Regions from separate parts of the Homo sapiens genome. Here region 1 is linked to region 2. The links come from fine-mapping of genetic effects on gene expression. A gene starts in region 2. The other region holds a variant in brackets. All regions are shown on one strand. Distances are from middle to middle.

Region 1 (8,876 bases), 26 kb after region 2:
CATTTAAACCCAGGCTCGACTGATTACAGGTCCTGGCTGTTTCTACTCTGCCATGTTAATTCCTATAATTCTGATGTTGACTGAGGATTTATTTCCCTTTCTCTTCTTAACTTACATGTTGGTTGTCGGGGGGAGCAAAACAAAGAGGTGATCCCACTAGCCCTGGGTCTGGCCTCAGTCTGCCTCTTCTTGGCCTGGATCCAGCTTTTCTGCGTCAGGACAGGAAAGGGCCCTTTTCATTCTGCGCCTGAGAATGACCTCCCTGGCAGTGCAGCTAGTCTGCGGCTGCACATTTAAGGAAACAGGGGCCTCCTCCCTCACAGGACTTGCTTTTGGGAAGGTGGGAGGTGGTCAGGAGACTTTTCAACAAAAAGCACCCTGCTCTCCATAAGCTTCACCCATTCATTTTATACTTTAAAAAAGCTTCCAGAAGCCATTGCAAATGAGTTTTTAAAAGAATACGACTTGTGCTTTCCCCAGGCCAGGGGACCCCACCCATCCCACCCCGGCTGGGCCTGAGTTCCTCCTGCTATCTGTCTATCGCATAGTAGTCCGGGAGGACGCAGGTGCCCCTCAACCTGCTGGAAGCAAGTTACCTTCTTAACCTACTACCGGGGGCAGCCATTTAGCATGGAGGTTAAGGATGTGGGCCCGGGACTAGGTTCAAATTCTACTCCACTGCTCATTAACTGAGTGTCCCTGGCAAATTACTCTGTTTCTCCAGCTGAAAAATAATGACAATGCCTCTCTCATAGTTTTTTGTGAGGAAGAAACAAGATGAGCCATAGGAAGCAGTGACTCCAGTGCTTAGCAAGAGGCAAATGTCTCCTTCTGTCTCACCTGGGCTGGCGCCTCTGCCCCCCGGGGGGGTGTGTGGCACAGGAGCCCTTGGCTTTCCAAGGCCCATTCACATCCATTTGCTCACACGGGGGCTACCCAGAGCTCCTCCAGTATACAAGGCACAGCAAGGGACCTCAGGGCTCACAGGCCCACCAGTCACAGACAGGACACGGCCCTGCTTGATAGGCCACCCTGAACCAGGGCCACGCAGGGTTTTGATGGGCCCCACAAAAAATGTTTATATGTTTTTTATTTTTGTTTTTTTTAAAGACAAGTCCTCCCTATGTGGCCCAGCCTGGTCTTGAGCTCCTGGCCTCAAGCAAGCCTTCTGCCTCTGCCTCCCAAAGTGCTGGGATTACAGATGTGAGCCACCATACCTGGCCACATAAAAAATATTAAAATTTATATTTCATGCTGGCCACATAAAAAATATTAAAATTTATATTTCATGACTGTTGTATAAAGACAAATGTATTCATATTATTTATTAAAACATTTTCTTCAACCTATAAGTTTGTTAATGAAATGATCCTGATTTTAAAAGAAATTAACCTATTTTTGTGGGCCCCTAAAAGTACAGTGAGCCGCAGGCACTGTGCCTTCTGTGGGTAAGCTGACCTCACCCTGGCCTCCCTGTGGGGGAACCCAGTGCTCAGCCCCTGGCCCTGCTCACCAGCAGAGGGTGAGAAGGAGGGAGCTCAGCTGCAGGGCCCTGCCCGTTGCATGTCCCCAGCAGTATGGGGTCATGTTCCTGGGTCCATACCACAGCCCCAGGGAAACAGTAACACCAGGAAAGGCCAGGGCATACAGTGTCTCTGGCATACTTAGTAGCGGGAGAGCGTCTTACACCCACCGCATGAGGTCAGAGCTACTGTTATCCGCACTGTGCAGATACACAAGCCGAGCCTCCAAGGAGTCAAGCTGCATGCCCAAGGCCACACCACTGCATGTGGGGCACTTCCCAGGCTTCAGGAGTCACTTTGTCTTTGGGTGGCGGGGAGGAGCTTCACCTGAGACCCCAGGCCAGCCTGTTCGTGGCTTGCCCTGGGCTCCACAGACAGTGGCTCATGTCTCCTTACCAGGTGGCCCCTGATAGACCGGTGATGTAGCTGGCACAGTCCAGGAGGTTCAGCTTCTGCAGCCCCAGCAGGTGGCCATACATGGAGGTCATGGATCTTGTTCCACCCCCAGTGGCCATGATGGCTATCAGCGGCACCTGGGGTTACACAGAGGCAGGCGGTTGGGGAAGGCTCCAGAAGCAAAGCTTGGGAGAAGACTTAGAATGACGGCAACTTTGAAAGAACAATGGAGGAGGCAGAGCTGGCTACAGAGGGCAGGGAGTGCGGCGTTGAGCCACCTGACACCTGCCTTTCCACAGAGCAGTGGGTCTAGAAATAGACCTCAGCTCCACACCCAGAAGTTGGTGTCAGTGAAGGACTCTGAAGCCTAACACAGGCTTGGTAAATCACAGAAAGCTGTGGCTAGCAGAGTTCTTAGCACTGTTAGTCTAGCCCTCGGTTAACAGGTGATAAAACTGGGGTCCGAGGGTGGTGGGCAGCTTGTTCAAGAACCCTACTAATGTGCGATCCCTCAATGGGACAAACCAACATCTTCTGTAGCTGGATCTGAGGGAAGGCACCAGGCCTGGCACATGGTGCCTGCTCAGCAGGTACTGTACTGGCAAGGCCAAGAGTCAATGGACTGGTGATGTGGGAAGGAGCAGGGTTGCCAGCTCTGGGTCAGCAGAGGTTTAAGAGGCCCCTGGAATGTTTCCCTAAAGATAGGGCCAGGTACAATGGCTCACACTTGTAATCCCAGCACTTTGGGGGGCCGAGGTGGGCAGATTGCTTAAGCCCAGGAGTTCAAGACCAGCCTGGGCAACATGTAGAAACCCCATCTCTACAAAAAAATACAAAAATTAGCCAGGCATTGTGGCTCATTCCTGGAGTCCCAGCTACTTGGGAGGCTGAAGTAAGAGGATTGCTTGAGCCTGGGAGGTGGAGGCTGCAGTGAGCTGTGATGGTGCCACTGCACTCCAGCCTGGGTGACAGAGCAAGACCCTGTCTCAAGAAAAAAAAAAAAAAAAAAAAAAAAAAAAAGGAGGGAGGAAGGGGCTCTTTGTCAAGACTCATTCTGTCTGTTTTCCTTTGAGTGGGGGCTGTAAGAACCTTCCATTGGCTAAAGCGCTATTACAAGTCCTCCTCGGGCACCCGCCAGGTCTCTGTCCTCACCTAGGGTCAGCCTCAGAAAGCAGGCGCTTGGAGGGCTTGCCTGCTGCCCAGGCGAGTGTGGGCCTTGGTCCACACAAGGGAGGCAACAGAGGGCTGTGACAGAGGCCCACCGTCTGCTCCCGTGGGAAGAAGGGGCGGTCTGGCCCTAGGAGTGCAAGTTGCTTCTCTCCAGCTTCCTAGCGCTGTTATTTCTGGGAGTGTGTTTACCTGTGCGGATTTGAGAGGAGAGACAATTGAGGAAAGAAGGACCTAAGGCCTTTTGGGTGGAGGTGTGGGGTGCAGAAGGTGGTACAGCTTAAAATGTTTTCCTGGCTGGGGTGAGGAGGGCATTTTATCCCTGAGTAAGGCCCCTTTAGCCACAGCAGGAACTCTTAGTGCTTGGGAGGAGGCGCTGGGGCTCTGTCCTTTCTGTCTCCATTTTGCTCTCCCCTTCTCTTGTGAATATAAAACAGAATCACTTCCAGCACAGCTCTCACCAGGGCGCCTGTACCTCAGCAGTAAAAGCATCCATGGAGGTGGCGCCTGGGGTAGGGCAGGGCCTGGGTTGGCTGGGAGGGCATGGTGCTGGAAGGACCAGCTGGGCCCAGGCTGGCCACATCCCTGATTACCCACCTCGTCCTCCTGCAGGTCTTCCTCCAGCTGCAGCACCTGCTTCAGGGCCTTGGCCACCACGACCTTCCGCTTCTGCAGAAACTCCAGCTCTGCTGGGCACAGGCTGAAGCCCAGCCGCACGTCCAGTGTCTCAGGGCTGGAGGGAGAGAGGACCCTGTATTGGGCCTGCAGCCTCTACCTCCCTGGAGTAGACACAGCTT[C/T]AGGGTCCATTGGACCTAGGCTCAAAGCCTACTTCTGCCAGCGACCACTTCTGTGACCTTGGGTCTCCACTTTCCCATCTGTAAAGTGGGGCGAATCGTGCTGAACTCTCAGCACTGTCTTCAGCACTTAAAGAGATAACAAATGCAAAGCCCCCAAAGCCTTAGCTGGCACAATGCGAGCTGGTACTCAACAAAAGATAACTGTTGGCACTGTGTTAGGGACGCTTTGAGTCCTCTGTCTCCTCGGCCAGATCTGGAAAGTCCAGAAAGTCTTCCCCCAGGTGGCTTCTCTAGCCCAGGGCCAGGCATGGGTGACAAAAGGCGCTGAGATCATTTTGCCAAATCCCTCTGAACAAGGCCCCACGGTATGGACTCTTCTGTGCTAGGTAAACAAACTCCCTGTTCCTATGGAGCTCACGTTCTTCAATGAGCTCTTCCTGCTCCTAGAATAACAATTATTCTGTGTGTGTGTGCAATTGACAAAAACCATCCCATTCCTGATCTCATTGTGTCACCTCATAGTCTGCAGGCAGGTGGGGCAGGCACCTCTGTGACATGCACAATGCTTGTCCTCTTTTTTTTTTTTAATCACATCCCTGCCCCAAACAAGTCCAGGCTCCTGGCCTGGCATCCAAGACCCTGCCTGATCTTTCCAAGCTCACCTCAAACTACCCGCGAAACTTCTGGGTCAGGTCCCAGAGCTCCCAGAAGCAGTCCTGTTTCCGGGTCTTGGCACAGGCCCCTGCCTTCACCAGAAGTGTCTTCCCTTTGCCCACCTCCAGCCTGTGCATCCTCTGAGGCCCAGCTCCCCAGTGACTCCAGATGAATGTACCTTGACCATTTCCAACTGAGCCTTGGCTCACTGACAAAGCCACATCTCCTTGAAGGCTGGGCCTAGGAGATTTCCATCATGTCTCCTCTTTGTCCAGCACAGGGCTGCAGACATGGCTGTTAGAAAATAATTCTTTCTTTGGCCTCAACAGGGAATGAATAATAATAATACAACAACAATAATAACAATAACATTAGCTGACGTTTGCTGAGCATCCCACTTGCCAGATGGATTACTGAGTACTTCGCACGTGCTGTCTAGCTGGATCCTCAGAGCAACCCAGTGATGCACAGGATCCTTGTTATTCTCCCAATGTACAGATGAGGAAAACAGAGACTCAGTAAGGGCAAAGAGCTTTTCCAAGGGCAAATAGCTAATCAAACTGTCAATAGAAATCATGGCCACTTGATTTCTGACAATCAAGATTTCTGAAAACGATGTTGTTTTCAGCAGATGGTGCTGAGACATCTGGATATCCACATGCCAAAGAACGAGGTTGAGCCCCTCTTTTACACCATGTAGATTGATTACCTAAAAATTGATCATAGACCTAAATGTGAGAGCTAAAACTAAACAAGTCTTAGAAAAAAACATGGGAATATATTTTCAGGACTTTGGTCGGGCGCGGTGGCGCACGCTTGTAATCCCAGCACTTTGGGAAGCCGAGGAGGGTGGATCACTTGAGGTCAGGAGTTCGAGACCAGCTGGCCAATACGGTGAAACCCCGTCTCTACTGAAAATACAAAAATTAGCCAGGTGTAGAGGTGTGCATCTGTAATCCCAGCTACTGGGGAGGCTGAGGCAGGAGAATCGCTTAACCCAGGAGACAGAGGTTGCAGTGAGCTGAGATCACACCACTGCACTCCAGCCTGGGCGACAGTGAGACTCCATTTCAAAATAAAATAAAATAAAATAAAATAAAATAAAAATTTCAGGACATTGGATTAGGCAATGATTTCTGGTTTCTTAGATATGACACCAAAAGCACAAGTGACAAGATAAAAAAACAAATTTCCTCAAAAGTAAAGTCCTTTGTGCTTCAAAGGACACCAACAAGAATGTGAAAAGATACGCCATAGAATAAGAGGAAATATTTGCAAATCATATATCTGACAAGGGATTTGTATCTGGCATATGTAAAGCACTCTTACAACTTAACAATAAAAAAACACAAATAACCCACATAAAAAGTGGGCAAAGGATCTAATAGAAATGTCTCCAAAGAAGATGATATGCCAGCCAGCCCATGGAAAGATGTTCAACATCATTAGCCATAGGGGAAATGCAAATCAAAACCACAGTGAGATACCACTGCACACCCACTGCTATGAATAAGTGAGAGGCACGGACAGAATGCGGGTACTATACCAGGGTGTAGACTTCATGTGTAATTCATAACTCTCACCCTGGGGAGGGAAAGATGAAAAGCTTGTCAGAGGTGACAATTCAGAGCCAAGTGATCCCAGATCCACACTGTCCACCCAGACCCCACTCAGCACACACGTGCACACACAGGCGCTCCATCCCTGCCTCTCTCTTCTGGACACAATCTCCCCACCATCTTCAACTCAGCCTCCATACACTCTTTGGACCACACTGTAGCTCATCAGTCTCCTGCCCCACAAGACTCCTCCATCCTGCCTGAGAGAGACCCTCACGAGTCACATTCTCTCTTGTACCTCCCCAGGCTCTCCCCACCTCCCTACCACAGGAGCTCCAGGGGAAGTAAGTCAGGGGCCCTTCCCAGACTCAGGCACTCACCACAGGCAGGGTCATCACCTGACCATCGGAAAGGCAGTCGAGGGGCTGGCTGATGGGGCCCTTCTTGCGAGAGCGGCAGCAAAGCTGGAGGGATGGGTGGGTTCTGTGAGAGGGGCTGGGGAGCTCCTCTGGCACCCCCCACCTGTCCCAGTCCCCCACACCTCCCCCAGTGTCAGCCGCCTTGTACCCCACAGCTCCAGTGACTCTTGGGCACTTCCACGTGCACCTGGGACTGGAAGTACTTGGGGTAGTGGAAGCAGGCAGCGGTTTGGAAGCAGGCAGAGGTTGGGCAGCAGGGTTCCAAGCAGGGCCGGACACGCTGGGTGTTCTCAAAGGATTCGTTCACCATCACCAGGAGGTCCTTCACTGGGAGAGAGGACAAGAGGGTGAGACCCTGGGAGCCTCTCACTACCCACCTGCAACTTGGTCCAGCAAAAAACCTATTTGGAGGTATCCAGGAGGAGTTTAGAATCACCTGGGGCACCAGTTCAAATTCCCCAGAGATTCTCAATCTATAGGGTAGGGCAGGGCCCAGGAACCTGCATTTTAATGAGGTTTATGAGGATGCAGACAAACATAGTCCCCAGAAAACCCTTTGAGATGCTGAGAAGGTCCTCAGGACCAGTCCTTGGCTCAGCTTTGCCAGAAGATGCCCCAAAGTAACCTGCCCACTGTAGAGGAGGCAGACCCTCCGCACACTGTCGCTTTTGATGTAGACGCCTCTTCTGTCCTCCCTCCCTCCCTCATGTCTGGTAGCCTTGCATGGGCAACATGGGGTGGGGTGGGGAGTAGGGTAGGGGTATGGTATTCATGGATCTCTTAGGTCTCTGCCAGCTATAAAGTGCTAGGACCCTCTGTGAGCTGTGGTCTGCCTAGAGGAAGGGGCATAGTTAGAGGGGTCCTGGGCTTCGGGTGCTGACCACCTCACTGACCTAGGCAATCTGAGGTCCTGGCATGGCACAGCACAGACAAGCGTGGATAGAGGGAGCAGCACTGGGACCCCAGACCTGAGATACTCCAAGGTTATGTGGGTGCTTGGGCGAACACGCCCTTTACAGAGCAGGATGGGAGGCCAGGGGCTCAGGACCCCTGGGGGTGAGATGATTCTGAGGGGTTTCAGCCGAGCTTTTGGTCCCCCTGAGCCCAGGGAAGCCCTGGACTAGGTGGAGTCTGATGCTGATGGGATTTGGAAGCAGCTCCCCCTTGTCCCCCAGTAGGCAGAAAAGGCAAAACAGCTCACTTTTCTCCCTCTTCCTCCGCCTCCTGGATTGTGCATGAACCTCCAGGCAGGAGACTTGTCGAGACTGTAAAAAACAAAGGAGGGTCACAGAGTGTCTGAGCACCAGCCACCTCCTTGCTCTTCCAGGCTGAAGGGAGATGAGGGACCAGAGGATACATTCAGCATTGGTCTGACTGGGCTGATGCTGGGGAATGCAGAATGTGTTGACCACATTTTCTGAACCCAATCAAGGCATGCCATCTCACTCAGAGATAGGATACTTGACCACGAAGCTGTCCCAGGAGGTCTAGGACCCACGGTCACAGTTTACTAGGGGTCAGGTCCTCAGCTGCAGGTCGGGAATCTGACCTGAGGGAATGTTCAGCTCTGGGCTTTCAAAGTGAGGGCTTCCGACAAAATAGCCTTGTCAAGATGCTGAGGCAGATCATACTCCTTTGCCACACATTCCCAAAGACTCTTCTTTTTGAGGGAGAGGTCTCCTTGAACCCTGAGGCACTGGATGCATTTAATTAAAATAGCTGTACCAACAGCCGAAATATGAATTTTTGTTTTTGGCACAGGGTCTCACTCTGTCACCCAGGCTGGAGTGCAGTGTCATAATCACAGCTCACTGCAGCCTTGACCTCCTGGGCTCAAGCGATCCTCCCACCTCAGCCTCCTGAGTAGCTGGGACTACAGACACATGCTACCATGCCTGGCTAATTTTTGTATTTTTTTGTAGGGATGGAGTTTCACTATGTTGCCCAGACTTGTTTTGAACTCCCGGGCTCAAGTGATCCCCCAACCTTGGCCTCCCAAAGTGCTGGGATTATAGGCATGAGCCACCATGACTGGCTATGAAACAATTTTTAATACAGAAATTGTGCTTGTAGGCCAGGCACAGTAGCTCACACCTGTAATCCCAGTACTTTGGGAGGCTGAGGCTGGCAGATCGCTTGAGCTCAGGAGTTTGAAACCAGCCTGGGCAACATGTTGAAACCCCGTCTCTACAAAATACAAAATAATAGCTGGGGGTGGTGGCGTGCTTGAGCACGGGAGGCAGAGGTTGCAGTGATCCGAGATCGCAGCACTGCACTCCAGCCTGGGCGACAGAGTGAGACCTTGTCTCAAAAAAAAAAAAAAAAAAAAAAAGGTAAACTGTGCTTGTAGAATTACTGGGG
Region 2 (8,876 bases):
AAATATCTCAATATTTTAGAGAGATCTGTAAAGGGTATAATATTTGGAACAGAAGATTGATTTTCAGGAGCCCCAGTATCTGGATGAGTGTGAGAACCACTAAATAGGACCCATAGTTTTTCTGTGTGAGATTTTATTTTTTTAAAAATAGATGAACCAGGCTGCCTATTAGTGAATGCCTTCACTTCCCTTTTCCTTAATTACTGAGTCTAGAAACTTATCAAGGGAATGAAGCAGGCCTTTGTTCCTATTCAGAATCCATTTCCCTGCTTTTTTGAAAATGAGAACATCTGCCTGCTTCCAGTGTTCCAATACTTTTCATATTCTTCACAATTTCTTAAAAGCCACCAAATACAGTTCTTTGAGCAGAAATGCAAGTTCTTTCATCCATGTGTCCGGCCAGAGATTTCCTGAACCTCGCCTGTGGCAGGCCCTGGGAGAGCTCCTCAGCCTGTGGTTTTAATCCCCTCTTGAACACAGCTGGGCTCCCTTCTGCCATCTCTGGGGCATTTTCTTTGAGGAAAAGGAGGAAGCTGAGTAGTTCTGCTTTCTGTTAATATTGCAGCAAGAGCCCATGAGTGGGCCGATCACTTCCTGATTCTTGTTCTTGTTCTAATCATACCTTAAAAGGCTTTTTTAATGTCCAAGGCACTTTTACCTTCTCAGCCCACTCCAGCTTCTTGATCCTTCATACCGCCCATAAACCTTGTCTGCACCCTTGCACATGCACCCCTGCCCCTTTTTTCCCCTATTAAATACTATAGTTAAATGTTAATATCTAAAGTTTTTAAACACAATTACGGTATCAAGCATTTTATTAAAAATTTTTATCATACTTTGATTTTACCAACTTGAGTGTTATGAACAATGAACATGTTTATACATTGACAAGAATACTCATACAGGGATTGTGGGATGGCTACTTTCACTCCCTTTTCCCTCATCTTTACTCCTTTTTTTTTTTTTTTTTGTAGAGATGGGGTCTCACTATGTTGCCCAGGGTGGTCTTGAACTCCTGAGCTCAAACGATCCACCTACCTCAGTCTCCCAAAGTGTTAGGATTACAGGTGTGAGCCACTGCACCTGGCCCCTCATCTTTACTCTTTAGTTCCTTTGCCCTTGGGTTCTTCTAGCTTATTTCTACTTTGTTTTCTTTCTGGCATCCATTTCTATTTTAAATTATTACACATAGATGCAGAAATTACTTGGCTGGCGCTAGTTGCAGAATCATGAAAATTAAATCACATGATGCTTAGTGTTGAAAGACTGAATTGTTTTGGTTTTTTATTGAGATATAATTCATATACCAGAAAATTTATTCTTTTACAGGGTGCACTCCTTTAGTATATTCACAAAGTTGTGCAACCAATATCATTATCCAATTTCAGAACATTTTCATCACATCAAAGAGAAACTCCACGCCCACTAACAGTCATTCTCTATTTCGTTTGCATGCGGCTATCCAGTTGTCCTAGCACCATTTGTTGAACTATAGTTTCCCCCATTGTTCTAATAGTTTTTAAGTGGTTTCTTAGGATTCTCTACATAGAAGATCATGTCATCTGCAAAGAGTTTTACTTTTTTCTCTCCAGTCTGGGAGTTTATTTCTTTTCTTGCCTTATTTCCCTGCTCTCTACCCTTTTAAAGCCTATATAGTTTCTTGAGTGACTTCCCTCTTTTTTCCTCATTAGAATAAGTTTTCTGGGGAGAGGGAACAGAGCATATGAAGGGAGAAAGTGGAGCTCTTAAAAATGTGTAGTTTGGGATGGGGCGCGGTGGCTCACGCCTGTAATCCCAGCACTTTGGGAGGCCAAGGCGGGCAAATCACCTGAGGTCGGGAGTTTGAGACCAGCCTGACCAACATGGAAAAACCCCATCTCTACTAAAAATACAAAATTAGCCAGGCGTGGTGGCACATGCCTGTAATCCCAGCTACTCGGGAGGCTGAGACAGAAGAATTGCTTGAACCCGGGAGGGGGAGGTTGCGGTGAGCCGAGATCATGCCATGGCACTCCAGCCTGGGCAACAACAGCGAAACTGTCTCAAAAAAAAAAAATTGTGTAGTTTGCATTCATTTCAAATGGACTTCATACTTTTTCAGTGGAAATGTCTTCCTTCACAGCACCTGGGGCCAGGGATTTTCTGGAGGAATCTTTGAAATCTGTTTTCCTCAAGTTTTGGACACAAGCCTGGGTGAGCTCCATATCCATCCTTCCTCGGCTAGTACAGAGTCTAAGATGACATGGTCACTTTCCCCCATGCCCATCTCCCCTCCTTCTCTGGCCAATTCTTTATTGCCAGTCAAAGGCAGAAGAGCCAACAGCAATAAGAGAAGATTCCCACCATGTCAGCACAGGTTCTGTGTCATCAGTGACCTCTTGGAATGTGCAGGAAGCCAGGGAGATAAGAATCTATGGCTATGTAGATTAGGTACACCCCACAGCCAAGTATGAGCTTCTAGGGCCCAATCGCTAGAAGCAAACAACCCAGACCACTAACCAGGCTCTAACTAAGGCAGGATCCAGGATGCTCAGCACCCTGGGCCAACCCTTCCGCTCAAGATGAATCCATGGTTCATTTACAGTGTCTGGGGTGATATTTAATTCCAAGTTCACAAGTCTCCAGGGTAGCTGCCCTTTTGTTTGGGGATTTCCTCCCGGGTGCTAAATCACTTCCTCCTAGCTCCAATCTGAAAAGCAATTCAGGTCTCCTGTGGCCTCACCAAGCTTCCTGCCCACACTGATTTTCTTCTAACCTCACTGGTCTACCTTGTGTACATCACCTAACAACAAAGCCACTTAGCTCAAGGAAAGCCTCAAGAACAAATGGCTTCCTAATAAGGTGATTCCTCCCTCACCCTAGGGTGGCCCACAGCTCCAGCACCTGCTGAGAGGTGGCCAATTTGGATGAGGTAGCTGCCAGGAATCAAATCTCAGAACCCTTCATAAAACTGCGCTTAGCTATTCCACAAATTTCTCCAAATAATGAAACAGAGAGAAGAGTGAGAATATAATGAGAGAGAAATCTGGAAAAATACAAAAGATAAATTCATGTTCCTGTGAGTTGTATTCATCTTCCTGGGAGTTGATAATCAGGCTGGCTAGCTATCCAGTCTATGGGAGCAGAGAGAGGGCTGCATTATCTCCAGGTTGGCACAGCATCTAGCAGGGGCTCCCTGATGACACCTGGGCACAACAAGGACCTCACAGCAAAGACAAACAGGAGGAAATGCCTAGGGTGTGGGGACATGCCACCACTAAATTACAAAAATATATGCCTTTCTTCTTTGTATGTTTCAACAGTACCGCTTCCCACTCTTGTACCACTTGGCCATAACACTTTATTATCCCTAGTACCTAAAAACTAGACAGTATTACTGAGACCTTAAATGTGACATTTGTCATCTTTCAAGGTGCCAGTTACTGTAATACAGCTATGGTTCATTTTGAGTGTCTGGGTGACGGTGACATATTTAATTCTATTTTTGTCTTGTCCATAAGCACCAAATAAAGCAATTTTGAAATTACTTTCTTCACACTCAATTTATTATCTAGAACGACATTTCAATACACAGTATATTTGTTTTGTGGAATTCATTCGCAGTGTATCTGGAGGCCTGGATTTAACATATTTCCTGTAGTGATAGCTACTCTATTTGTAGGAACTATTTAGGTCACTGGAGTGGAGAAAAAGAGGTCGCTACTTAACAGAAATGGCATGTATCCAAATATAGATGCAGTTTTCTCAACACCTGTTGCACATCAAATGATGAAGAGATTGTTACAATTTCCAAAACCCTGGACCAAAACCTTAAATGATCAGCACTTTGTTTCAACTGATACACGGCTTAAGTCAGAAAAATAAGTTCTTCTTACCAAAAACAGTGAGCCTAAATATGCTGGCTGCTTTAGAAATAAAACAGGTGATCAACAAAGCAATCTGTTTCTGTCTAAATAATTTCCCAGCAAAAGTCACTTCTTTTGAAACTATATGATTTGAACCACAGGGTATGCACAGTGATTGTGTGCTTTCAGAAACACGGTAAGCATGACAAATATTTTCAGTTGTCAAGGGTAAGCGAGGAGGGAATGACCCACCTAAGAAATGGAAACTAACAAATAGTAATATGACACTCCCCCTTAGTTCCACAGGCTGGTGCGGCTGCTACACGCAGCTCACTTCCTACGGGCGGCTAAAGGCGGTGCATGAACTGAACGTAGGCGGCCTCTTTATCCCCTCCCCACAACACTGTGGGGTGGCACGTAAAGACCTCAAGGGAAGGGGGCCTGGGCGATACGCTCTCCTGCTGCCATTCATTTGTTCAAGAAATAGTTGAACAAATGAATAGTTAAACAAACTCTCCAACTAGGACTCTGTCCCATTCGGATACCCTACGCCTCTCCCCCCATTTCCATCCCTAGGCATCACTCCCTCGTCAAGAATATGCTGATTATGGCTCGCGCCCCCTCTCTCCCTTGGACCCTCCCGCCAGGGCGACCGGACGAGGCCAGCGGGAGCAACGCCTTCCGAACCGCAAGGAAGGAGGGCTCGGAGTGCGCAGGGCGCGGGTTCGCGGGACCCTCCAGCGCGCGGGGCTGGCCAGCCGGGGCGGGGCCGAGGGCACCGGGCGCCGAGCTCCGGGAGGGGTCCCCGAGGTCGCGCCGGCCGGGAGGGGCAGCGGCGGGAGGCGGCCGACTGCGGCGCACACGTGGGGAGGGCGGAGCGGGGCGGGAGCCGGGCGAGGGGCGGTGACGGTACCTGATGAAGGTGGTCTTGCCGGTGCTGTACTGGCCCACCAGCAGGATCATGGGCTTGTTCTCGAAGTCGGCGTCCTCCAGCGCAGGCGAGTGGAACTCGTGGAAGCGGTACGCCTCCTCCAGCGGCAGCACCTTGCGCAGGTAGAGCGAGCGCAGCCCGCCCGTCACCGTCTGCACCGCGTCCGCGCCGCCAGCGCGTTCGCGCCCGCCCGCCTGCCGCCCCATCCAGCTGAACATCCTGCCGCCAGTCCACGCTCGGATGGGACCCTGCTCCGGGTTCGACTCTCCCCGGCTCGCACTGAGCCGCCCCGGCCGCGCTGGCCGCCGCCCGAGGAGGGCCCCGCCTTGTGCTGCCACAGCCAGTCTTCGGCCGCTACGTCACGCGCGCTCGCCCACTATTCAGACGAGCTCTCTCAGGTCCTTCCTGATTGGATCTCTGCCAGAGAGGGCTGAAGGCGTCAGCCAATTGAGAGGAGGTTCTTAATGAATTATTGATGACGGAGTCATTCTAGAGGACTGGGCGGGGAGATGGTGTCTTCCCGGCCGGGTGGCACTGACCGGTCATGCTCAGGGCCCCCTTCTGGTTGCCGGTGCCTCACCTCTGGCCAGGTGGCATCGGCTTCCGGGTAAATCTGAGCTGCCCAAAGCGAGCCTCCGGAGGCTGCTCCATCTCCTGGAACGTTTACTCATTCAGGCCTCTGGACGTCGATACTGGGGATGAAAAGTTCAGAAAGTGGACAGGCAGGTTCTGTCTTCCCGGGGGCGGGTGGTTATGACTCCGTTTTACAGGCCAAGAGACCCAGGCTCACGGGCATAATTGACACAATCTTGAGGGGAAGTGGACTGGAATCTATTTGAGTAGCCGTTTCTCCTACTTCTCCACATTGCCCTCACTAAATTCTGGATCAGCTAAAGGCTTTTTCCCCTTAGTTTTCTTTATGTGTTTTTCTGTAAAGCCGAAAATTTAGTCATTACTCTCATTATTACATTATCCTCATTATTACAACTTTATTTCCACATATTGACATGTGAGTCATTGTCACCTCCTAGCTGTTTTTTGTTGTTGTTGTTGTTTTCTGAGACGGAGTCTCGCTCTGTCGCCCAGGCTGGAGTGCAGTGGCACGATCTCGGCTCACTGCAACCTCCGCTTCCCGGGTTCAAGCAATTTTCCTGTCTCAGCCTCCTGAGTAGCTGGGACTACAGGCGCTCACCACCATGCCCAGCTAATTTTTGTATTTTTAGTAGAGATGGGGTTTCACCATATTGGTAAGGCTGGTCTTGAACTCCTGACCTCAGATGATCCGCCTGCCTTGGCCTCCCAAAGTATTGGGATTATAGGCGTGAGCCACCGCCCCTGGCCTGTTTCTTTTCTAGGTTAAAAGGATACTCACTTATCTAAGTTGAGATTGGGGGAAATAATCACCTTTTGTGTCCTTGATTGTAGCTTAGGAATATTTCTTAGTTGTTTTAGAGCATTTCTCAAGTGTGATCCATGGGGCCACCTGCATATATGCATTTATGAGCTGGGATGCTTGTTAAAATGCAGATTCCTGGTCTTCAGTCCAGACCTACTGAGTTAAAATATTGAGGAGAGATGGAGCTCAACAGATGCCCTAGGTGACTCTGATGTGGCCTAAGTCTGGGGAAACAGTACACCCTGCAGTACTTCTCCAACCTAACAGAAATGCGGATTCTGATTCGGTAGGTATGGGATGGGGCCCATGACTCTACATTTCTAACAGGCTCTCGGGTATTGCCAATGCTACCCATCCCTGGACCATACTTGGAGTATGAGAGAACAGGACTTTGCATCAAAAGATCTGGGTTTGAACCTTGACTATGTAAATTAATGGCTGTGTGATTTTAAATGTGATGAGTTACCTCTCTGCCCTAGTTTCCTTAAGAGCAAAATGGAAACTCCTTTGGAGTTGTTGTGTGGGTCACATAGTTGGAGGGAATTGTATGTAACTAGGGAAGTGAAAAGAAAGCCAAGGGAAAATAAAGTTAGACATCTGCCTTGTGTCAAAATAAAACAAAGATTGAAATGTAAAAAGAAAATGAAACCACTGCACTACTAGAAGAAGGTACAAGAGATTTATACAATTTGGCGGTGGAAAAGCCTTTCTAACCAACATTAAGGACAGAAATTATGAAAGCAAAGGCTGACATATTTGACAACAAAAGTAAAAGCTTCGATGTATTTTTTTAGAATACATAAAAACAAACGGATATAAATACAATCTTACCATATGATGCAGAAATCAGCTCCTTAGTATTTACCCAAATGAATTGAAAACTTATATCCACAGAAAAGCCTGTACATGGATGTTCATAGTGGCTTTATTCATAAGTGCCAAAAATTGGAAGCAACTAACATGTCCTTCAGTAAGTGAAAGGATAATCTGTGGTACATCCAGACAATGGAATCTTATTCAGCACTAAAAAGAAATGAGCTATCAAGCCATAAAAAGACACAGAGGAAACTTAAATGCCTATTACTAAGTGAAAGAAGCCAATCCGAAAATGCTATGTACTGTACGATTTCATCTTTATGACATTCTGGAGAAGGCAAAATTATGGAGGAAGTAAAAAGGTCAGTAGTTTCTAGGTGTTAGGGAGAAGGAAGGAATGAACAGGCAGAGAACAGAGGATTTTTATGGCAGTGGCTCTACTTTTTATGGTACTATAATGATGGATACATGTCATTATATATTTGTCAAAACCCACAGAATGTACAACACCAAGAGTGAATGTAAGTGATAATGACTCGTGAATTTCAGATCAGTTTTAGGTTCACAGCAAAATGGAGCATAAAGTACCGAGAGTTCCCATATACCCCCACCCTCCCCGACACACAGCCTCCCCCACTATCAACATCCTGAACCAATGGAACATTCGTTACAATCAATAAACCTAACCTAAATAGATACATCACTAAATTAACTTAAAATGGAACTAGATATAAAACTAATATAAATGTAGAACTAAATGTAAAACTTAAGATTATAAAACTTCTAGTAGAAAACACGGGAGAAAATTGTTGTGAACTTGGGTTAGGGAAAGATTTCTTAGGTGACACCAAAAGCACAATCCTTAAAGGAAAAAAAAGTTGGTAAATTGGATTTCATTAAACTTGAGAACTTCTGACCTTTGAAAGTACTGTGAAGAGAATGAAAAGACAAGACAAGGCACAGAATATACTTGCAGATCACATATCTGATAAAGGACTTGTATCCAGAATATTTAAAAACTTCTTAAAACTTAATAGTAAAAACCCCAATTTTAAAATTTCCATTTAAAAAATGGAAAAAAGATCTAAACAGATATTTTACAAAAGAAGATGTATGGATGGCAAATAAGCACATGAAGACATGTTCAACATTGTTGTTTGTTAGGAGAATGCGAATTAAAACCACAGCAAGATACTACCACATACCTATTAGAATGTCTAAAATTAGGAAAGACTGATCATGCCAATCATTGATGAGGATGTGGAGCAACTGGAACTCTTACACATTGTTGGTCAGAATGTAAAATGGCACAACCACTTTGGAAAACAGTGTGGCAGTTTCTTAAAAAGTGGAACGTACACTTACCACATGACCCAGCAGGGGAGGAGCAGAGGGAAGGATTGCAAAAGGCACTGGAAAGCTTTTGGGGCTGAAGGGTTTATTCATTACCTTGATTGTGGTTATGGTTTCACCATTGTATACATATGTAAAAACTCATGAAATTATGTACGTTGGATCCTCCATATCTCTGTGTTCTGTATCCATGGATTCAATCAACCACAGATGGAAAATATTTGGGGAAAAAAATGGATGGTTGCATCTGTACTGAACACATACAGACCTTTTTTCCTTTTCATTATTCCCTAAGCAATACAGTATAACAACTATTTTCATATCATCTACATTAATAATAAGTAATCTAGGTAGGATTTAAAGTATATGGGTTCCTGATGCATGGCGTTTTAAGTTTAAAAGAAAGTATGTGGAGGATGTGCTTAGGCTATATGCAAATACAATACCTTTTTTTTTTTTTTTTACAATACCATTTTATATAAGGGAGTTGAGCATCCATGGTTTTGGTATTCCCAGGGGTCCTGGACTCACGGAT

Direction of the effects. Alleles are on the strand shown, and positions count from the first base shown. SD is a standard deviation of normalised expression in the study named.
For the expression in sun-exposed skin of the gene that starts at base 5,263 in region 2, C is the high allele of the variant in region 1 and T is the other (small effect, 0.26 SD a copy in GTEx).

The links.
Region 1: its variant is fine-mapped to the expression of PLA2G4E-AS1 in sun-exposed skin (GTEx, PIP 0.91).

What each region holds. Positions count from the first base shown.
Region 1 is chr15:41,993,441-42,002,316 of GRCh38, forward strand. It overlaps PLA2G4E (phospholipase A2 group IVE), which reads right to left. Exons shown (of 20, transcript NM_001395548.1): 7 at 7,717-7,780; 8 at 6,664-6,842; 9 at 6,477-6,560; 10 at 6,084-6,121; 11 at 3,684-3,819; 12 at 1,920-2,056. It overlaps PLA2G4E-AS1 (PLA2G4E antisense RNA 1), which reads left to right. Exons shown (of 4, transcript NR_120334.1): 4 at 3,699-5,654. Among named protein-coding and RNA genes, the nearest start is that of PLA2G4E, 23 kb to the right of the region's middle. The variant C/T (reference allele first, on the strand shown) is at 3,884.
Region 2 is chr15:41,967,501-41,976,376 of GRCh38, forward strand. PLA2G4E-AS1 (PLA2G4E antisense RNA 1) reads left to right here and starts at 5,263. Exons shown (of 4, transcript NR_120334.1): 1 at 5,263-5,498; 2 at 6,304-6,458. It overlaps EHD4 (EH domain containing 4), which reads right to left and starts at 5,057. Exons shown (of 6, transcript NM_139265.4): 1 at 4,759-5,057. The coding sequence starts at 4,994. RefSeq lists enhancers at 696-745, 2,517-2,736 and silencers at 4,499-4,768, 4,869-4,938, 4,979-5,108.